Homo sapiens: one gene and its partner. The protein of the gene in region 2 interacts with the protein of the main gene of each other region in a pairwise test. Each region holds a gene or a part of one and is shown on either strand. Other genes may lie near its edges.

Evidence for each region.
Region 1: the proteins of EDA2R (region 2) and AGR3 interact in binary tests that used the Homo sapiens proteins (3 or more experiments, as listed by UniProt).

The regions. Positions count from the first base shown.
Region 1 is NC_000007.14:16,869,391-16,880,234, forward strand, and holds part of AGR3 (anterior gradient protein 3 precursor), read right to left. Parts: intron 9,256-10,844; 5' UTR 9,229-9,255; coding exon 9,120-9,228; intron 4,454-9,119; coding exon 4,390-4,453; intron 1-4,389. UniProt on the Homo sapiens protein: Required for calcium-mediated regulation of ciliary beat frequency and mucociliary clearance in the airway. Might be involved in the regulation of intracellular calcium in tracheal epithelial cells.
Region 2 is NC_000023.11:66,613,646-66,624,489, reverse strand, and holds part of EDA2R (tumor necrosis factor receptor superfamily member 27), read left to right. Parts: intron 1-8,459; 5' UTR 8,460-8,469; coding exon 8,470-8,556; intron 8,557-9,876; coding exon of another isoform or gene 9,877-9,931; intron 9,932-10,844. UniProt on the Homo sapiens protein: Receptor for EDA isoform A2, but not for EDA isoform A1. Mediates the activation of the NF-kappa-B and JNK pathways. Activation seems to be mediated by binding to TRAF3 and TRAF6.

The DNA of each region.
Region 1 (10,844 bases), on a different chromosome or scaffold from region 2:
TATATTTTTTGATCCTTTCAATTGCAGTTAATAAACATCCTTCAAGGTGAAGTGAGGCCTGGCATGGTGGCTCATGCCTGTAATCCCAGCACTTTGGGAGGCCAAGGTAGGAGGATTGCTTGAGCTTAGGAGTTTGAGACTAGTCTGGGCAACATGATGAAACCCTGTCTCTACCAAAAGTACAAAAATTGGCCCATGTGGTGGCACACATTTGTAGTCCTAGCCACTTGAAAGGCTGAGGCAGGAGGATCGCTTGAGCCTATAGTTGGGGCTTGTGAGTTTGTTTTTTTTTTTTTTTTTTTTTGCAGGGGGCAGGGGGAACCTGTTTTTTAATCCATTGAGTCACTCTATGTCTTTTGATTGGAGGTCCAAATCCATTTACATTCAAAGTTTTATTTCTATACTTTTATTATATTTTATTTATTTACAAGTAATATACTGTTTATTATTGCTTTGTAAAATGTTTAATAATGATTAAGGCCTAATCCCTATTGCTCTCTTTTCAGAATGTTCCTAACTATCCTAACTACTCATGTCTATTATTTTTTCATTTCAACTTTAGAATTATCTTTTTAAAAAATCTTATCACAATTTATTGTGATCATCTTAAAAAGTTTTTTAAGTATAGAGAGAATTGGCATTTTTATGATGTTAAGTCTTTCTATCCAAGAATATAATATGCACTGCCATTGGTTTGGAAATTTCTTTTTTCTTTTCAGTGTATTTAGGTTCTTATAGATTTTGCATATCTTCTGTCAAGTTTATTCTGGGGTATTTTCTTTTTTGTCATTGTAAATGAGGTATTTAACAAGTTTTTTTGGATGTGTTTTTCTATATATAAATGCAGTCAATTTTTAAATATCAATTTATTCTCATCTAATTCAACAGAATTTTTGTTATTCTGAATATTTAAATTTTTTTAGTTTTTCACGTATATAAATTATCATTTGCACATAAAGATAATTTTAACTTTTCCTTTCTACATTTTCTACTTTTTCCTTCTATAATTGTGTTAGTACTTCAGAAAAATGTTAGTAATTGTTGTGGTTGTAGATATACTTGTCTTATCCACACTTTAATGGGACACTTCTATTTGTTTTCCCAGTAAGCATAATGTTGGTTTTTTGTTGTTGTTGCTACTGTTGGAATGCTGTTGTTGGGATTAATTTAAAGAAATTAATATTGTCAAATACAAAGTCTTAAAAATTCAAATATAGATGTTTTATTCTATAATGCATTTTCAGAATTGGTGGAGATTAGACATACTTGTATGAATTGTCTCCTTATAAATATTAAATTATTTTAATTAGTACATTTCTTAATCCTAAACCACTCTGGCATTCCCAGGCTAAATCTCAATTTGTCAGGGTATATTTTTAAATGTTCTGCTGGTGCTCCTTACTAATATGTTGTTTGTTTGTTACACCGATATTTGGAAGTGAGATTCTTCTGTAGACTTCTTTCTTTTCTAATGCTTGTCCAATATTGAAACAATAGTTAATTTGGAATCTTAATTTATCTTTAAAGAGTATTGCAATAGAATGTTCTTTAGATATTTCATTCATTCTTGGGGAGCTTTTAATAATATGTTTCTCAGCTTCATTCCCAAAGACTTAGTAGGTCTTTAAGAATAAAAATGGTATACTTGGTTATTGAGCCTAGAACAGTGTCTGGTACATAGCAGTGGACATTCAAGGAATACTTGACTGATTAATTATAAATTTGGATTTTTAAAAAAGCTACTCAAATTGCTCTAATATTCAAACAGGCAGGCCTTAGAACTGCTGCCCTAAACCAGTTTTCTGTCTAAGCTTGTATACTGCCTAATAAATAATACTGCTTTGTTTATACAACATACTCAAAAGCTTGATTGAGTAATGAAGACATTAATACAGAGGTATTTAGAGCTTTTGTTTATAAAATGTATTCTAATAGCAACTATTAGTCCCTTTGGCATACAATAGCAGAGCAAATACTTGTGGCATCCTTTTGAAAACTAAAATGCTTTTTTTTGATTCATCAATGAGGTATCTATATGATCTGTTAAAATTAACGGAGAGTGGAGGATACAAAATCAACATGCAAAACCAGTAGCATTTCTATACAACAATAACAAACTAGCTGAAAAAAAGAAACAAGAAAGCAATGCTATTTACAATAACCACAAAAAGGCCAGGCGTGGTGGCTAACGCCTGTAATCCCAGCACTTTGGGAGGTTGAGGTGGACGTATCACCTGAGATCAAGAGTTCGAGACCAGCCTGGCCAACATGGTGAAACCCTGTTTCTACTAATAATAAAAAATTAGCTGGGCATGGTGGCATGTGCCTATAATCCCAGCTACTCAGGAGGCTGAGGCAGGTGAATCACTGGAACCTGGGAGGCAGAGGTTGCAGCGAGCTGAGATCGCGCCACTGTACTCCAGCCTGGTGACAGAGCAAGACTCCATCTCAAAAAAACAACAAGCAAACAAAAACCACACACACACACCTAGGAATATATTAACCAAGGAGGTGAAAGATCCCTACAAGAAAAACTATAAAACATTGATGAAAGAAATTGAAGAGAACACCAAAAAATGGAAAGACATCCCATGCCATGGATTGGAAGAATGAATTTTGCTAAAATGACCATACCACCAAAGGCAATCTACAGATTCAATGCAATCTCTATCAAAATACCAATGATATTTTTCACAGAAACAGAAAGAAAAAAATCTTCAAATTTGTATAGAACCACAACAGACTCCAAATAGTTCAAAGCAATACTGAGTGAAAAGAACAAAACTGCAGGCATCATACTACTTGACTTCAAAATATACTGCAAAGCTATAGTAAACAAAACAGCATGGTATTTGTATAAAAACAGAAACCTAGACCAATGGAATAGAATAGAGAACCCAGAAATAAATCCACGTATTTAAAGTCAGCTGATTTTTAACAAAGGTGGCAAGAACATGCATTGGGGAAAGGACACCCTCTTCAATAAATGGTGCTGGAAAACCTGGATATCCATATGTAGAAGAATGAAACTAGACTCCTAACTCTTACCATATGCAGAAATCAATTCAAAATGGACTAAAGACTTGAATGTAAGACCCCAAACTATAACACTCCTAGAAGAAAATATAAGGGAAGCCCTTCGGACATTGTTCCCTGCAAAAAAATGTATGGGTAAGATTTCAAAAGCACAGGCAACAAAAACAAAAATAGACAAATGGGACTATGTCACCTGAGAAGCATCTGAACAGCAAAGGAAACAAAAGCATAAGGGGACAAACTGTAGAATAGGAGAAATTATTTGCAAACTATTCATTCGACATGGGCCTATATCTAGAATATACAAGGAACTCAAACAACTCAACAACAAAAAACCCCAAATGATTTGATTTTAAAATGGGCAAAAGATCTGAATAGACATTTCTCAAAAGAAGACACACAAATGGCCAAGGATATGAAGAAATTCTCAACATCTCTAATCATCGGGGAAAGGCAGATCAAAACCACAATGAGATATTATCCCACCACAGTTAGAACTGATATTATCAAAAAGACAAAAAATAACAAATGCTGGTGAGGATGCAGAGAAGAGGGAATTCTTATACACTGTTGGTAGGAATGTAAATTAGTACAGCCATTATGCAAACATATAGAGGATTCTCAGAAAACTAAAAATATAACTACCATATGATCCAGCTTTCCTACTACTGAGTATTTATTTAAAAAATCAGTATATCAAAGAGATATTTGCATCTCCATATTTATGGAATCACTATTCACAATAGCCAAGATATAGAATCAACCTAAATGTCCATCAATGGATGGATGGATAAAGAGAACATGTTATATATTCACAGTGGACTACTACCCAGACATAAAAATAATGAAATGCTCTCATTCACAGCAGCATGAATGAGCCTGGAGGATGTGTTAAGTGAAATAAGTCAGATATAGAAAGATAAATACCACAAATTCTGACTCATATAGAGTAGCTTAAAAAAAAGTTGTACTAATAGAAGTAGAGAGTAGAACTCTGGTTATTAGAAGCTGGGGAGGGTTCAGAGCTGGAAGGATAAGGAGAGGTTGATTAATAGATGCAAAAATATAGCTAGATAGGAGGAATAAGTTTGAGTAGTATTCTACAGCACTATAGGGTACATACAGTTAACAATAGTTTATTGTATATATTTAAAAAGCTAGTAGAGAGGATTTTGAGTGTTCCCACCAGAAAGAAATGATATGTTTCAGGTGATGCATATGCTAATTACACTGATTTGATCACTACACATTGTGTACATGTATCAGCATATCACTCTATATTCCATAAATATGTACAATTATTATGAGTCTACTACAAATAAAAGGAAAAAAATGAGCTGAGAAGCATGTTACCTTTTTTGAGCATAAAAGAGACCTTCTTCATAAGTTTGTACCCAAGTGATGTCATCTCCCCATCCTGAAATAGAAGAGAGAAATCAATGCAGTAACCCAGAACTAGAGAAGAGCTCGGAAATGGGTATCTAATAATCAGATATCTACCTACAGATATTTAACTAAGCCATCAAGCTGTTGGCTGACATATGGTGCAGAGGACACACAATTTTCACAAGATATGGAGGTGATTTCCCTTTAGATTGCAGTACTGAGGTTTTGCTACTGCATTTCAAACCTCGAGGCCCATGGCCTTGAACCCAGTAAGTACTCAATACATGTTGTTATGATTAGAGCTGATTGAAAGGACATCTTTGGATAATGTAAAAGCTGTGGCTTTAGGAACGCTTGGAAAGTAACAGTTCATCTTTGCATACTTTGTAATATTATTAGGAATCCTTTCGGCTGTACTCTACAATGCCCTCCTATTTTGGGTCCCAAGAGATGTTGACCTCTTCTAAGTCAGTATACGTTGTGAAATAAGGGAATTCCAAGTTTTGCTTTGAATTCTGACATGGAAAAAATTCTTGTGTGGGAATTTCATGGCCAAGAGACATAATAAAACGCATGTGTTTTGGAAACACCCAAAAGAATGGAGAGAAAAAACAGAAAGCAATGAATATAGAGAGAACCCATTAGCCTTAAAGAAATGGTATGAATAGTTGGGAATGTGTATAAGCAATTAAAGATAAAATCATCAAGTAGAAGAATGTGCAGAACCTCCAAAAACATTACTGAGTATTTTCAGGAAGTGTCTCAGTCTACGAATGAGAGAGATTGAATTAATGTGAAAATTAGCAATATTTGGAAGTCAGTTTGGGCCCAGGTTTTCTTGTACATTTCAAATGTTGTCAGACCACAGTTTCTGGCTTTAATATCATGGTAAATATGATAGTAATTTGATAAATATGATTCCATGATTTTTGCTTGTTTTTCATGTTTGTTTTCTGGCGACAGCTTTATTGAAATAAAATTCATACGCCAATACAACTCACCTATTGAAAACGTATACTTTTGGCCAGGCATGGTGGCTCATGACTGTAATCCTAGCACTTTGTGAGACCAAGGTGGGTGGATCATTTGAGGTCAGGAGTTCAAGACTAGCCTGGTCAATACAGTGTAATCTGTCTCTACTAAAAATGCAAAAATTAGCTGGGTGTGGTGGCATGTGCCTGTAGTCCCAGCTACTCGGGAGGCTGAGGCAGGAGAATCGCTTGAACCTGGGGGTGGATGTTGCAGTGAGCCAAGATTGCGCCACTGCTCTCCAGCCTGGGTAACAGAGCGAGACTCCATCTCAAAAAAAAAAAAAAAAAGAAAAAAAGAAAATGTGTGCTTTTTTCAGTATATCCACGAAGTTGTGCAACCATCATCACATCAATTTTAGAACATTTTCATCTCCTCAAAAAGAAACCCTATACCATTTAGCTATCACCTGCTCCCCATTTTCTTCAAATGCCACAGCCCTAAGAAACCCCTAATCTACTTTCTGTCTCTATAGATTTGCTTATGCTGGACATTTCATATAAATGGAATCATACAATATGTAGGCTTTTGTGACTAGATTTTTTCACTCAGCATAACCTTTTTAAGGTTCATCCTTATAGTGCCATGTATTATTATTTAATTCATTTTTTATGGTCAAATATTATTCCATTGTATGAATATACCATATTTTATTTATCTGTTCATCAGTTAATGATATTTGGGTTGTTTCCACTTTTTGTCTTTTATGAATAATGATGCTATGAACATACATATACAAGTTTTTCAGTGGTATATATTTTCATTTATCTTGGGTATATACCTAGGAGTGGAACTGCTGATCAAATGGTCACTCTGTATTTAGCTTTTTGAGGAGCTGCCGGGTTATTTTCTAAAGTAGATGCATCATTTTATATACTCACCAGCAACATTTTTGTTTTTTGTTTTTTTTTGCCTGATTTAAAATCTTAACATTGAAAAACATCTCTTGTTAGTTTAATGCCACATCTTAACAGGAACTCTTGCTCTCTGTAATAATCCTGAAAGATTCTCTTTCCAACTTTGGTTGAACACATGCAATATCTATACATCACATTTTGCATTAAGTAAAAGTTATTCTAAAACAGCAAGTGAGACGAGGCCTCTGCTGAATTTTCCCTCTTCTGTTGCAAATATCATTCAATGATGGAGCATTAGCAGTGGGGAAAATTTCTATTCTCTGCTCCTGCTCAATTTAGTTCCACAAACAGTAAAGGAACATCTGCTGCATAACTTACTCCACAAAGCAGTGGGAATACAAACATAGAGCAATATAATCCCTATTCTCAACAAATTGTCCATAGCTCTGTAGAAAAGCCATATTGCATTATAATGATTTTTTATTTACTCTGTTATAATCACAATAGGTCAAAGCTGTTACACAGTTTAAATGCACTTCATGGCTTCTGCTCATTACTCTAATTCTAGCCCTATCTCTATCTCTGGCTATATTTTCTTGTCTTTTGAGATTTTATTCATTTATCTAACATATATTTATTAAATATTTACTATCCGCCAATCACTGGACTAGGTACTCAGCAATTCTGATTCAAAGGAAATTGGATTTTTTTTGGATCATTCTATGTGTGTGTATTTTTTTCTCCCTGAACCTTCTTCTACCTTTTTCTAATTAATCTTCCTTTTCTCCTTACTGCCTTCTCTACTTAACTAGTGCTGCCCTGTGCTCTAAGGGGCTCCATATGCCACTCTTTATACTGTATCCAGACTTCTCCCACTCACCCCTACCTTTAATCTTCATTCATTCTGAGCCTCATTCTCTCCATTATCTCCCATGTAGCAATAGATGGTAAAAGACTTTGCCAAATATAAACCAATTCTCAATAATGGTGTTCTCAGCTAATATCAGTCATCTTCTGTGTTAAATTAGTTTCTTATCAATTGAAATAATAGAACCTTTAAGTTGTTTAAAATAGGGCATACAAATGTAATATATTTTTTCAAAACATTCAACAAGAGTTTTAAATAAATATTTAGAAGTGAGCACACAGAATGTTGATGCCTTGACGTATAGTTATCACAGTGCTGCTTAATGCAGACATGGAAAATCTTTAAGGGCAATAACTAGTTTAGTCTTTGTCACTTTAGGGCTACTGAGCTCATTGTTTTACAACAGTTATGCTTATACAGAGAGATAGAGTTATGTTTAGGAAAATATTTCAACTTTTTCATTCCTTTCTTTTGCAAAAATATGTTGACTTTCTGTATATATAGATTGTGTGTTTGTTAAACTGAAGTAGAGTTAATTAGCTTAGGTAAACATTGATGAGCACTTGGCTGGCACTCAATACATCTGTTAAGAAATGAATGTACTTGGGAAGCAAGTCAGTGTTTTAGAATTTGAAATTATATAATATATATTTATAATTATAGCATATATTTATATATAATTTATTATAATATAACACAAATGTATACTATGATATATATTATATATAATATATAGTATATATAATATATAATTTGTATGTTATAATTATATATATTTTATATATATATCAGAGGTAGGAACAGAATTATTTGTTCCCACTTGGTTATTCAAAACTAGCAGTATTACTCCAAGGCACTTGACTACTATTTGCAGTGGTAATATGAATGGAGCAAACAAATGGTCAAGTACTTTGTGGTAATACTGCTGATTTTGAATAGCTATATGGGGACAAATAATTCTGTTCCTACTTCTGTTACTTAGAGATATAGAAACTAACTTTGAGAATATTTTCTTGGCCGGGCGCGGTGGCTCACGCCTGTAATCCCAGCACTTTGGGAGGCCGAGGCGGGCGGATCACAAGGTCAGGAGATCGAGACCATCCTGGCTAACACGGTGAAACCCCGTCTCTACTAAAACTACAAAAAATTAGCCGGGCATGGTGGCGGGCGCCTGTAGTCCCAGCTACTTGGGAGGCTGAGGCAGGAGAATGGCGTGAACCCGGGAGGCAGAGCTTGCAGTGAGCCAAGATCGTGCCACTACACTCCAGCCTGGGTGACAGAGCAAGACTCCGTCTCAAAAAAAAAAAAAAAGAGAGAATTTTTTTTAATAAAATGTTTCTTTACAGATGAATATATATTTGTTTCTTGGGCCAAGTAAAACAGTAAGTACAAAAAGAAATGTTTCTAAACATGTAGCCACCGGCAATCCTTGATTATGTCTAAAACCACTGTCTTCCAGAGTCAATATAGCAAAGACTTAGTTACCCCGAATTCTCAGAGTTTGGGGTATAGTATAATTTTCTGGGAAGGCTTATATAAAATTATTCCAATTTTTTTTTTTTTGGAGGACTGGGAAATAGAGGACTGGGAATTTGAGCAAATTTTGAGGAATCTTAAATTGCTATTAGGACACCAATATGACGCAGCAATCAATCATTATTTTCTAGGACTCTGGTTACCAAAGTTATAGACAGCGAGCCAATTCTCCATTATTTTGGCAAAAGATAATGCAAATTTATGTTATTGTTTGCTAGTTGATTTGATTCACTGCCTAAAATAAACTGATTCCTTCTGTTTTAAAAAATCCATTTTGAAGTCACACACAACAAAAATCATTCAGTTAGTTGAATTTGCTTTATAATTAGACTATGAGTGAAGACACCAGATATTTTAAAAAGCAATCCAAATGACTGAGTTTAGAAAATAAAATGAGATTACAGCACCTCTTGAGAGTGTCTGAGGAGGCCTCTTTTCCTTTTTTATTGCAATGGCAAGGTTGGAAGAAACTGTGACGAGTAAGAGGCAGAGACCCAAAGCTGAGTGTAGCATCATGTCTTCTAGAGACTCTCTCAGAAGAAGCTAGATGACAGAAAGGAATTCTCAGAATCCAGTGAATTACTTCAAGCTATTATTAGAAGATATTTGCTAAGAGTTGGACCAATACTGTGATGACAGACTGTTCAGCTTTTTTGGTTTGACATGGTATAACCAACCACATAGAACTTTCATTCACATTTTATTTTTAAAATACTTAATCAACTCAGTACATGCTCAGTTGGTGAGAAGTCATGTTCTGAGCCTCCTGGGCATGGTGCTGTATAATTAAAAAAGAGCTGGATCAGGGCACACGAAGCCTGCTTCTGAACCGCCCTGTAGTGTTCACACCAACAAGACGAAACTCAAATAAGATCATGTTGTTTGATGTCTTGTAAACTATGAAGTGACTTTTAGCATGCAGAAATATTCTTTGCCTTTTGATTCTCCTTCATCTAATAGGTCAAAATATTTTAACTCTATACTAAGATAAGATTATACATGAATAAATATTGCTTAAAATAGAAATCAGAGGAAAAATAGAATATGGAGGATTCTTGTCCTTCAGTTCCTTTATAGTTTCTTACCTTTCTCATCCTTCCAACAATTACTCAGACTTTTGCCCTTCAGTTTATGATACAGCTCTTTATAAAAATCAAGTACTATCATATTACTATAAATTAGACATATGTATAGAGAAGAATAGACTGTCATGATTACATTCTCTCCTGGTTAGCTAGAATTCAAACTGATTCTTAACTCAATGTGCATCTTTTATACTTTGCACGTTAAGATAAAAACTGAAGTCCAAAGTTGGGCCTGATCTGGTCATAAACCACTTGATAAATATATTACAGGAAGTCTTTAATACTTGTGAGATGTTTAGTTACAGCATTAGCATATAAAACTGATTTGAAAATGGTTGACTCATGCAGTTTTGAAACTTTACCTCAAAATATAAAATAAATATACAGACATCATTCACATTGATTTGAAGTTCCTTTAAGACGTCTTTCCTATTGGCTTACATTATTTAGTATTGAACTCATCACCAAAATAGTAAAATTTCCTTAGCCAAAATGGCTAGTGACTGATTCTTTAGTGATTCTGTTCAAACAAAGATGTTGCTATATTTTATTGTAGTAGGCATTGTGGAAAATGAAAAGATATATAAGACACAATGTTTTGGCATTGGTAAAACATTTGGCAATTTTAATCACCTAGTTATTGTAAAGTAGCAACCGCAGTCGTGGAGGAGAACAACAATTTGGTGGTAAAGAAGTTTACAGATTCTAGATTTCTCCAGACATTTCCTCATTCCTCCCATTATACTGTTTTCCCCTTCCCAGTGGTGTATCTATTGCAGCCCCTCTATGGACTGAAAATAGTTACCACTCCAGGTTAACCTTACTTTATTTCCCTCCCTAATCCCCAGTTGTCCCTCCCTCCTTCCCTTCCCCTTCCTTCCTTCCCCTTCCTTCTTTCCCCTTCCTTCCTTCCTTCCTTCTTTCCTTCCTTCCTTCCTTCCTCTTTCTCTCTCTCTTTCTTTCTTTTCTTTCTCTCTCCTTTCTTTCTTTTTTTTTTTTTTTTGCTCTTGTCACCCAGGCTGGAGTGCAGTGGGGCCATCTCCACTC
Region 2 (10,844 bases):
TGGAGTGCAGTGGCACAATCTTGGTTTACAGCAAACTCAGCCTCCTGGGTTCAAGCAATTCTTGTACCTCAGTCTCCCAAGTAGATGGAATTACAGGTGCATGCAACCACACCTAGCTCAATTTTGTATTTTTAGTAGAATTGAGGTTTCATCTTGTTGGCTAGGCTGGTCTTGAACTCCTGACCTCATGTGATCTACCCATCTAGGCCTCTGAAAGGGCCGGTATTCCAGGCGGGAGCCACTGCACCTGCCCAAATTTATTAATTTTTGATAACAATCCCTAGCTTCCTCCTAGGGATGTGATGGTGATCTGTTGAGCTAATCGATGTAAAATCCTTTATAAACTATGAAACCTTTTACTCAGACAGGAGAGTATTCCCAGTATTCTGTAGATTTTCACCATTTTATCATTCAACAAATATTTGTTTAATGCCTACTGTGTGCCAGGCACTATTGTAAGCACTGATGATGAAGTAGCAAACACAATACGTACCATGGCCTCATAGCATTTACATTCTAACTGGGGAAGAAAAAGCAATAAAGTACATAAGATTTATGATATGTCATAAGGTCATATGTGCTATGGAAAAGAATAAAACTGGAAACGGGGATAGGAATTCTGGAAAGAAGGTGAAAATTTGAGAGAGTGGTCAGGGAAGCCTGACTAAGAAGACTGTATATGAACAAAGAACTGAAGAAGATGAGGGAAGTAGCCATGCAGGTATCTGGGGAAGAACATTCCTGCTTGAGGGAACAGCAGATGTGAAGGCCTTAAGATGAAGGCATTTCTGGTTAGTTTGAAGTTCAACAAGGAGGCCAGCATGGGTGGAGTGAAGACAATAAGGAAAAGAGTAGTAGAACTTAAGGTCAATAAATAATGGGGGAAATTGAGGTAGGCGTATCATCTAAGGTCTCTATTGGCCATTATAAGAACTTAATTTTTTAAAATATGAGCTCTTTATTATATGCCATACATCACTGTGTATATTTTATGTTTTTACATACCCATTCATTTTTTAAGTTATATCCAAAACTGTGTAGGACTTATGTGATATTATGAGTGAAAGAGGGAGCCATCAATGGCTTTTGAGGCTGGAAATGACATGATCTAACATGTTTTATCCCCTTTATCTTTATTTTCTATTCTCCCTAGAAAAAAATGGATAGACCTTGGGTTTCTCCCTCAACAGATTCTCTCTGAATATGGGGGAGAGATACAGAAAAACCTTTTTTTCTGACTGCATTTTATTTTCAGGTGAAACAGACAAGGTCAGAACTAAAAGAAAAGAGCCCTTAAAACTGTGATTTTCAACATTGACTGCACATGAGAATCACTTGGTGAACTGTAAAATGTAGCGTGCTCATGCCACATTTTTGACTAACTACAACAGAATCTTAGGGGAGGGACCCAGGTGTCACTATTTTTTGGCACTCCCAAGGTGCAACCAAGACTGAGAACCACTGGTCTAAGAGATTAGCCAAACCAACTCCCTCGTGGTATGAATGGAGAACTTGATTCCAGCATTGGGAAGGGATATTCTCCTGATGGCAGAGCTGGGACTAGGACCATTCACTATGCTGAGCTAAAACAGGAAATGCAAACTTTACAAATAGTGGGGCAGAAGGAAGATATGATGTTTGATAGTTTGGAAGGAGGTTATAAACAAGATAAACCTTGGATAGAAGTGGCCTTGGGTCAGTTCAGAAAAGGGAAAGGCTGAGTGCCAACACCAAAAGGTAAAGCAACATTTGAATTACAGGCCAGGCATCTGGAAATGATGGCACTGTACAGTTTAGAAGCTTGATTTTCAAGAAAGCAGTGTTCTCAAGGCTACGTTGAGCAACTTCTTTGATTCTGTCTTGTGCATGTGGGTGGATAGATGGGCTCGCAGTAGAGGAATGGGCAAGGCATGGAGACCATCTGCTGTCTTCTTCATCGTTTTTAATCCCACACCTCCTGCACTGTCCAGGCAAAGCAAATATCCTGAAGTACTGAGTTCTTAATTTAGACTTGTCCTTCTTTCCTGCCTACCCATACTACATAGAGAGAGCATGTTTCACCCCACAGGCATGTGTGCAAGTTGAGAAGAGCAGCAGCCACAAGCTGCAGCAAGGAGCAGCTGCACCCCCAGCAGCCTGGGTACCTCACATCCAGCAGAAACTTGGCCAACATCAATTATTCAGGGCATGATGAGCTAATTTGGGGATTACTATTGATGTCAGCTGTATTGTTTCTCCTCTTCCCTGTCTGCTTGCATTCTTAATCGTCTACATTATTTTTTGAGGAATCAGGACAGGGAGATGGGTGGGAAGAGCAGCCACATGACAGACAGGCAAAATAAGGGAATAATTCTAGTCATATTGCCACTTGTTGGCCCTTGTAAACACAATCAAGGTATATACAACACATACTTGGATAAGTTTGGGTGAGAAGTTGGATGAATCAAATTATATTTGGAGGCCTGTGTAAAAATATTCATAGCAGCTTTAACATTTTTTGGGGGGCTAACTTAAGCAATATCCTATTGGAATAATAAATTCAAAGTATTAAATAAAGCTAAAGAACCATCTTTTAAAATGAGATATAATTCACATACTATAAGATTTACCTTTTTAAAGTGTATAATTCACTAGTTTTAGCATATTCACAAAGTCACACGACCGTCACCACTGTCTAATTCCAGGGCATTTTCATGACCCTAGAAAGAAACATACCTATTCAGCAGTCACTTCCCATTTCCCTTTCTCCCCAGGCCCTGATATCCACTAAAGCTAGTTTATGATTGATTGCCTATTCTGGACATTTCATGTAAATAGAATCATACAACATTTGTCCTTTTGTGTCTAGCTTCTTTTATTTAGCATAATGTTTTCAACGTTCATTCATGTTATTGCACATGTTAAGCACATCATTCTTTTCTCTGACTGAATAATTTTCATTGTATGGATAAACCACATTTTGTTTACCATTTATCAGTTGATGAACATGTGGATTTTCCCCACTTTTTGGCTATTATAAATAATGCTGCTAGGAACATTTGTTTACAGGTTTTTGTATGAACACATGTTTTCAATTCTTTTGGGTATTTACACTTAGGAGTGAAATTGCTGGGTCATGTTGTAACATGATGTTTAACATTTTGAGGAACTGCAAAATTAATTTCCAAAGGGGCTGCATCATTTTGTATTCTCGCCAGCAATACACAAGGGTTCCAGTTTCTCCACATCCTTCTCCCCCAGGCTGGAGTGCAATGGCACGATCTCGGCTCACTGCAACCTCTGCCTCCCGGGTTCAAGCAATTCTCCTGCCTCAGCCTCCCAAGTAGCTGGGATTACAGGTGCCTGCCACCATCCCCGGCTAATTTTTGTATTTTTAGTAGATTCAGGGTTTCACCATATTGGCCAGGCTAGTCTTGAACTCTTGACCTCAGGTGATCCACCTGCCTCGGCCTCCCAAAGTGCTGGGATTACAGGCGTGAGCCACCGTGCCTGGCCGGCTATTTTTTTTTTTTTTTTTTTTTTTTGGTAGTGGATATAAAGTGCTGTTTTATTGTGGTTTTCATTTTCATTCCCTTTGTTGCTGATAACACCGACCATCTTTTCATGTGTTTATGGGCCATTTGTAAGTCTTAGAGTGATATCTATTCAAATTCTCTACTCATTTTTAAATTATCTATCTTTTTTTGAGTTGCAAGAGTTTTCTATATATTTAGATACAAGTCTCTTATCAGATATGTGATATGAAAATTTTTGTGTCCTATTATGTGGATTGTCTTTTCACTTTCTTGATGGTGTCCTTTGAAGCACAAACATTTTTAATTTTTAAATTTTGTTGACATGTCATTGTTCTGTTTTTCTCTCTTGTTGCTTGTGCTTTTGTTGTTATATCTAAGCAACTACTTCCTAATCCAGTGTCACAAAAATTTACACCTATATTTTCTTATAAGAAAAACATTAATTACAGAATTATTATGTTTTCTTGTAAGAAAACTTTTATAAGAGTTTTATAGTTTTAACTCTTACATTTGGGGATTTAGTCTATTGTGAGTTAATTTTGTATATGATATGAGGTAGGGGTCCGATTTGATTCTTTTGCATGTGGATATCCAGTTTCCCCAACACCCTTCTTTGAAAAGATTTTTTTTCTCATTGAATTTTCTTGGCATTCTTTAAAAAATCCATTGACCATAGTATAGCAACTCAATTTATAATGGCCTCAAATTAAAAGCAGTCCAATGTTTGCCAAGAAAAATATATAAATTGTGGTATATCCATACAATAGGATACTACACAACAATAGTAATTAACAAATGTTGCTACACAAAACATAATGGATAACTATCACAGACATTATAGTTATCAAGAGAAACCAGAAACAGAAGAGCGCATCTTGTATGATTCAAATTTATGTGAATTTCAAGGACAGGTATAACTAATTGTAGTGATAGAAGCCAGTGCTGTAATTATCTGGGGAGGAGTCGATATTGACTGGGAAGGGGCGTGAGGGAGCCTGCTGGGGTAATAGAAAAGTTCTGTGTATTTATTTGGGTGGTGTTTACATGGGCATGTACACAGTAAAAATTTATTAATTTATTTAATCTTTATGCTCCTTACTATGTATATGTTGTACTGCAATCAGAAACAGACAAAAAATCCCAGCATGTTACCCACATGAATTTTTAGAGCACTTCCACATTACCTCATCTGTGTAACTTCTGAGTTACACAGATCAGATATTCTCTGGGCAAGTTGGGAAGTTGGAGGAAGTATTTCAGGGTGTAGCTGACAAACAGTACAACTGAGTGGGTGATGCGCTTTAGCAGAATCAGAACCTCATCATGTGTTATACTCCATGGGATTGAGACAAGAGGCATCTGCCACTTCCCTTCCTCTCCCCAACCCTCAGTAATGTAAAGAGAACACAACCCCATGTCAGAGTTGGGGTGAAAAAAATGTTCTTGAGCAGCCATAACCTTAGGTTGTGGAGGTGAGAGGGACTGTTCTGTGGAAAATCATGTGCTATTTCATAAAGTCCATAATAACATCCTCACTTATTTGCAAATCTGATTTTATTTCTTTTTCACTTCCATTTCAAAGGCAATTGTCTCGGAAAAGTTTCCAAACGTTTGTTGACCAAGTTAATCCTATACAGAAATGCCTTGATGAAAAAAATCCAGCAAACACTTAGAACAATGTTTCTTTTAGCCAAGGTGGCTTAGGCACTGAGGGTATCTTGGAGAATCTTTTCCTTAAGCATCAGGTCACTGGTGGTTGCGATTAATGAGGAGGAAACTGCTATAGTGGCATCCATCTTAAACATGGCCTTCATGCTCCAGCTGAAATGGTCAATGAAGAAGCTTGGGTGCCTTTCCTTTTTCTTCCCCACACATCCCAAAAATGACAAATGTGCACTCCTTTTACTATAAACCTCACTCTTCTGAAGAGGAAAGAAGAAAGGGAACCTGCTAATTACCAAACGTCTCATATGTATCAAGCCCTATACTTGGTCCCTTAATATGTATTATTGCATTTAATTTTCTAAATTACTGTGCAGTATATTATTTAAACATCCATTTTGCAGATGAAAAAACTGATGCTGACAAAGGTAAAACTATTTGTTTGAGGATGCAGAATTAAAATTAAAACTCAAGTCTACATGTCCCTAACTAAGAGCTTTGCTCTTTTTTTGATGGATGTGAGGTTACTACTATTGTTTGGAAAGTCATTATCTTAAAGAGAAATGATCTATGTTGCTAGATTCATATGCATAGTTAACCATAGTCCAGGGAATGTAGCATGTTGATAAGCTAACAAATAGTAAGCACTGTTGAGGTACACACTCTGTGCCAGGTGCAGGGCTAGGCACTGGGCATGCAGTGGTCTCTACTCTTGGGAACTTTATAGGTCTGTATATATTGCCAACTTAGCCAGAAGTTTAGAGGATTCAGCCACATCCTTTGTGATACTTTGGAAGAGTGTCTAGCTGCAGTATGGAATACCTCAGAGTAACTATAATTTTCTGAAAACATAATTATTCTTTCTTATTTTTTCTTTTAAAAGGCGGTTACATATGCTACAGGAAACTGTTGATTACAGGGAAAAATTCATATAAGGTCTGACTTTCTCCCTAGGTAATGACATTTAACCCTTATTAGGTAGTTTTACACATACGCCCTGACCTCTTCAAAAGAGTCCAGAATCTATAATTTTGTTCTCTTTAATAAAGTCAATTTGTTAAGCGTCGAATGAAAGATAATTTAATTTGTATGCTTTGAATAAATAGTATGAGAAAAAAAGAGGGAAGGCTGGGCAAGGTGCCTCACGCCTTTAATCCCAGCACTTTGGGAGGCCGAGGCGGGTGGATCACCTGAGGTCAGGAGTTCGAGACCAGCCTGACCAATATGATGAAACCCTGTCTATACTAAAAATACAAAAATTTGCTGGGCATGGTGGCATGCTCCTGTAATCCCAGCTACTCGGGAGGCTGAGGCAGGAAAATCACTTGAACCCAGGAGGCAGAGGTTGCAGTGAGCCAAGACTGTACCATTGCACTGCAACAAGAGCAAAACTCCATCAAGGAAGGAAGGAAGGAGAGAGAGAGAGAAAGAAAGGAGGAAAGGAAGGAAGGAAAGAAGGAAGGAAGGAAGGGAGGGAGGGAGGGAAAAAAGAGGGGAGAGAAAGTCCCTCTGCTCAATTTGGCACCAAGCCTGCCTTGCCTAGACAGAGGTTTCAAAGCCATGGTTAGAGAGACATGTTGGGGTTTAGGACACATGATGTTTATTAGGGGGGTGGAGCTCTAGAAACCAAATGAAATAGGATGTCTCAGACCCTCAAATGCCAGCAGCAGTTGTCATGGAGATTTTAAACGCCTATGTTGGGAACTTAGCTCAAAAAGAGGGCTACTTCTTGGTTCCTGCCAATGTTTTTCTGTTTTGTGGGCAAAAAGGGATATGAGAAAGTTGTCCAGAGCAGTTTCCTGGCCCTGTTACTGTGGTGCTTAACTTCCTGGTCATGAAGGCTATGAGAATACTGAAGTTTTCTGTTCTCAAGGAGAAGAGTGCATGGCAAGGGGAGGGAAGCATGCCTACTGAGGCCAACACCATGGGCCAGCAATCAAATCAGCACAGAAGACAGTATGTTTATCTTATGCAAGCATGGATCTTGTAGCCCACTTTCCTTTGAATGAAGGAATGGGAAAGAATGGCCCAGTTGATGATGAAAAAAAGGTGCACTTATGGAATGCCATTTAGAATGACTTAACCTGTCGCTTTTGGGGAACTTTGAGTGGAGGAGTGGTGGCCTCTCAAGGTACACATGTACACTCTCGTCTCTTCTGACTAAGAGTACACATTTAGGACTTTGGCACTTTTAGAAACCACTTGAAATTCACCCTAGTATGAAGTCATGAGTAAGTAAAGAACCTCATGCTACCTTTCTCTTTGAGTAGGATAAGCCCCATTTATGAATTACTTTAGCCCCTTCATTAAAATTCCTCTTTGTAGAAGACAACCTTTCTGCATACTTAACTCTGTCTTATTTTGTATAGCTCTTTAGAATGGTTTGATGGACCTTAGCTCCTTTAACCCTCCCAAGAGCTATATACAATAGGTGAAGAACATTCTATCCCTTTTTCTTAGATTAAGTAACCGAGGCCAGAAAAGATAAAGTGATCCATCCCAGATTGTAGATTGAAAGGGTAAGAGCCAGGCTTGGTGAACAGCCATCCCACTTCAATGCTAGCTCTACTGCTATATGCATCTGTATTCCAAGAACTATTATCTGAGTAATGTTTCCCTATCTGTGCACCTTTGTGCACCAAAATATGTCTACATTCTGGGTTATTCTCCCCTCCCATTCTGCCTAAGACAGAAGCTATGGCAGGTATTGGTCCTCAGAGGTACTGAGGCCACTGTTGGCAAAGAGAAACAATGTTTCAGCTTTTTCAGTTATAAAATAAAGATGACAATCTCTATAATGCTTACCTCACATGGATGTTGTGTAGATCAAATAATAATAGATGTGAAAGTACTTTCTAAATTGTTATGATCTGTTCACACATGAGGGATTGTGATTATTCTTTACCCCCTGGGCAGAAGCCAACTCCTTGTCTTATTACTCTCTTTACAAATTCAGCTCCTGGTATAGCCACTGACTGTGAATTTGAGCAAATTGCTTGGTCTCTTTGCCTCAGTTTCTTCATCTGTAAAATGTTGCTAACAATAATTCTTAATATGATTGTCTTGAGAATGGAATGAGTTACTACATGCAAAGCATTTACAAGAACTCATGGCACATGGTCAGAGCTACATAAGCATTAACTCTTTTGTGTTGGCTTCCTCGTCCCTACTATCTCAGATCTAGAGAATAGATTAAGGGGACCCAGAAGCCAAGTGGCATGGAAGCCACTACTTATAGTCCCTTCCCACTAGCTTGCTAGTTCTTGTGTTCTCTACCCACAGCCTTCCCACCATGGATTGCCAAGAAAATGAGTACTGGGACCAATGGGGACGGTGTGTCACCTGCCAACGGTGTGGTCCTGGACAGGAGCTATCCAAGGTAAGTTATCCTATTCAGTACACTTATTTCTGTTGCATCTTAGGAACCAGCCCGGCAACTGAAAGAGGCCAAGATTAGGGGAGTCAGCCCTACTTATGACTGATCCAGTTCAGCGGGTAAAACCTGGGATCCACAGAGTATGCAATAGCAGTCATGATTCCAGCATGAAGTCAGCCTAGCAGGATCAAGGTCAAGGGAAGTTTCCATGAGATAACAGAGTATTTCAAGAATAGATGTGTAATGCAGAGACCCATGAGGACTGTTCAGCATTAGGGTAATCTGTCATCTAAAGCAAGGCCCAACCACATGGTGTTCAAGAGCCAGATATCAGGTCTTAGGAATGAGAAAGAGAGAAGAGCCAAGAAGACCTCTGTTCTAGAGGGTCTGCGCTACTGAGGAAGCTGTGCAATGGAGAATATAGGGATAGGGAACCACGGAGGGTCTAAAATCCCAATTAAAGATAAGGATCAGAATAAAATGACCAGCAAGGCAGAGACTTTATGTAACTTACTTGTTTCAAGCCTGGATCTGCTTAATTGTTCTTTCCTCAGGTCCCTTGTAGGTCCCTGAACTTGGGGGTGGTATTAAATTTTGGCTGCAGCTGGGGCTACAGAGGCCAGAAGCAAGCAGCTAGCAGATGGTTTCTGCATATTCACACTCTATTTTATGCAATTTTTGTTTATTCAGCAGTTGCTTATTGAACACTTGCAGAGTGGCAGGCATGGTTGTAGACACCATGGATATGGCAGAACAAACAAAAATATTTGCCTTCATGGACCTTACCTTCTATTATTAGTGAAAAAATAATAATTGAGACACATACAGAGATAAATGAAGAATCTGGATATGAAGATATGAGAAGAATCAAATTAGGGTGACTGGGTGGCTACTTCAGATTATGAAACAAGGAAAGGTCTCCCTAAGGAGACAGCCTCTGGGGAGAGGATACTAGTGCAGAGTCCCAAGGTGAAAATGAACTAGGCATTTTGAAGGAAAAGGAGGAAGGTAGTGCAATGGGTGTATGGTGAATGAGAGGGAGGGTAGTACACAAAGAGGTCAGAGAGAGAAGTATAGACCAGACCAGATAGCAGCTTGAGGTCTATGAGAAATTTTCATCTTTCTCTAAGTGCATTAGGAGCTCTTTGGAGGGTTTTGGGTTGGAAAGTTATAGGAATCTGTGGCTGGAAAACAACATAATAATTATCTAGCCCACTTTATTCCTACCTTTGTATTTTAAAAAATGAAGAGAATAAGGCGCAGGGATATCAAGAGATACAAGCACTAATTCTAAGTTTTTACACATGGCATTATGTCCCACAGTGGGGTACCCACATGGTTGATAAAGGATCCCAGTACCAAGGAAAGATCGCCAGAGGTAAGGTCATGCTGGACATTAAAATAGATATTAAAGCTTATATATGTGTAATACATATAAGCTTTAGAGCCAGATACACATGGGCATGAGTCCCATCTTTGCTCTGGGCAAATTATTTCACCTCAGAATCAATTAGGATGTAGTAAGTTGAAAGTAACATAAAATTTAACCATGACATGAACCATAAGTATATTTATTTATGTAATGAAGTCTGGAGACAGGCAACCTTTTTGCTTGTTGGGCAGATCAGCAATGTTATCAAGGACTCAGCCTCTTTTCATCCTTCATATTGGACATCTTGCTGTTTTGTTCTCATTGTGGCCTCATGATTGCAAAACTCAAAGCATCATATCTCCATACAATAGTCAAAGTCAGGAATCAGGGGCAAGGTCAAAATAGCTTGCCTTTTGTAGGGAAGAAGTCTTTTCCCAGAAGCTGTCCAACAGATTTTTCCTTATATCTTATGGTCCAGAACTGGGTGATGTAGCTATCTTTAGCTGGAATAGAGACTGGGAAATAAGTATCTGGCCAATGAGAATGGGATTGTGTGATTAAGACCAATCAAGAATCCGTTCTGGAGGCTAGTCTTCATGCCACCTAGAATGAAATCAGTGTTTTTATAGTAAGGAAGAAGAGGGGCAATTGTTTGAATAAGCAGCTAGAAGCATCTGATAGCCTTTTTTAAAGTAACTTTTATTTACTTTTAAATTTTACTCATGAATTATAAACATCACTGTAAATAAATCATTGCAGAAAATTAACACCATTTCCTCAGGACATTTTTCTTGATGTATAATTGCCAAGCTAAATAATGCGTACGATTTTAAGACTCTTGAAATATATCAGCAGATAACACTTCTGAATTTTGTTTATACTAATTTCTATTACCATTACATTTATTTTCAACAGTGCA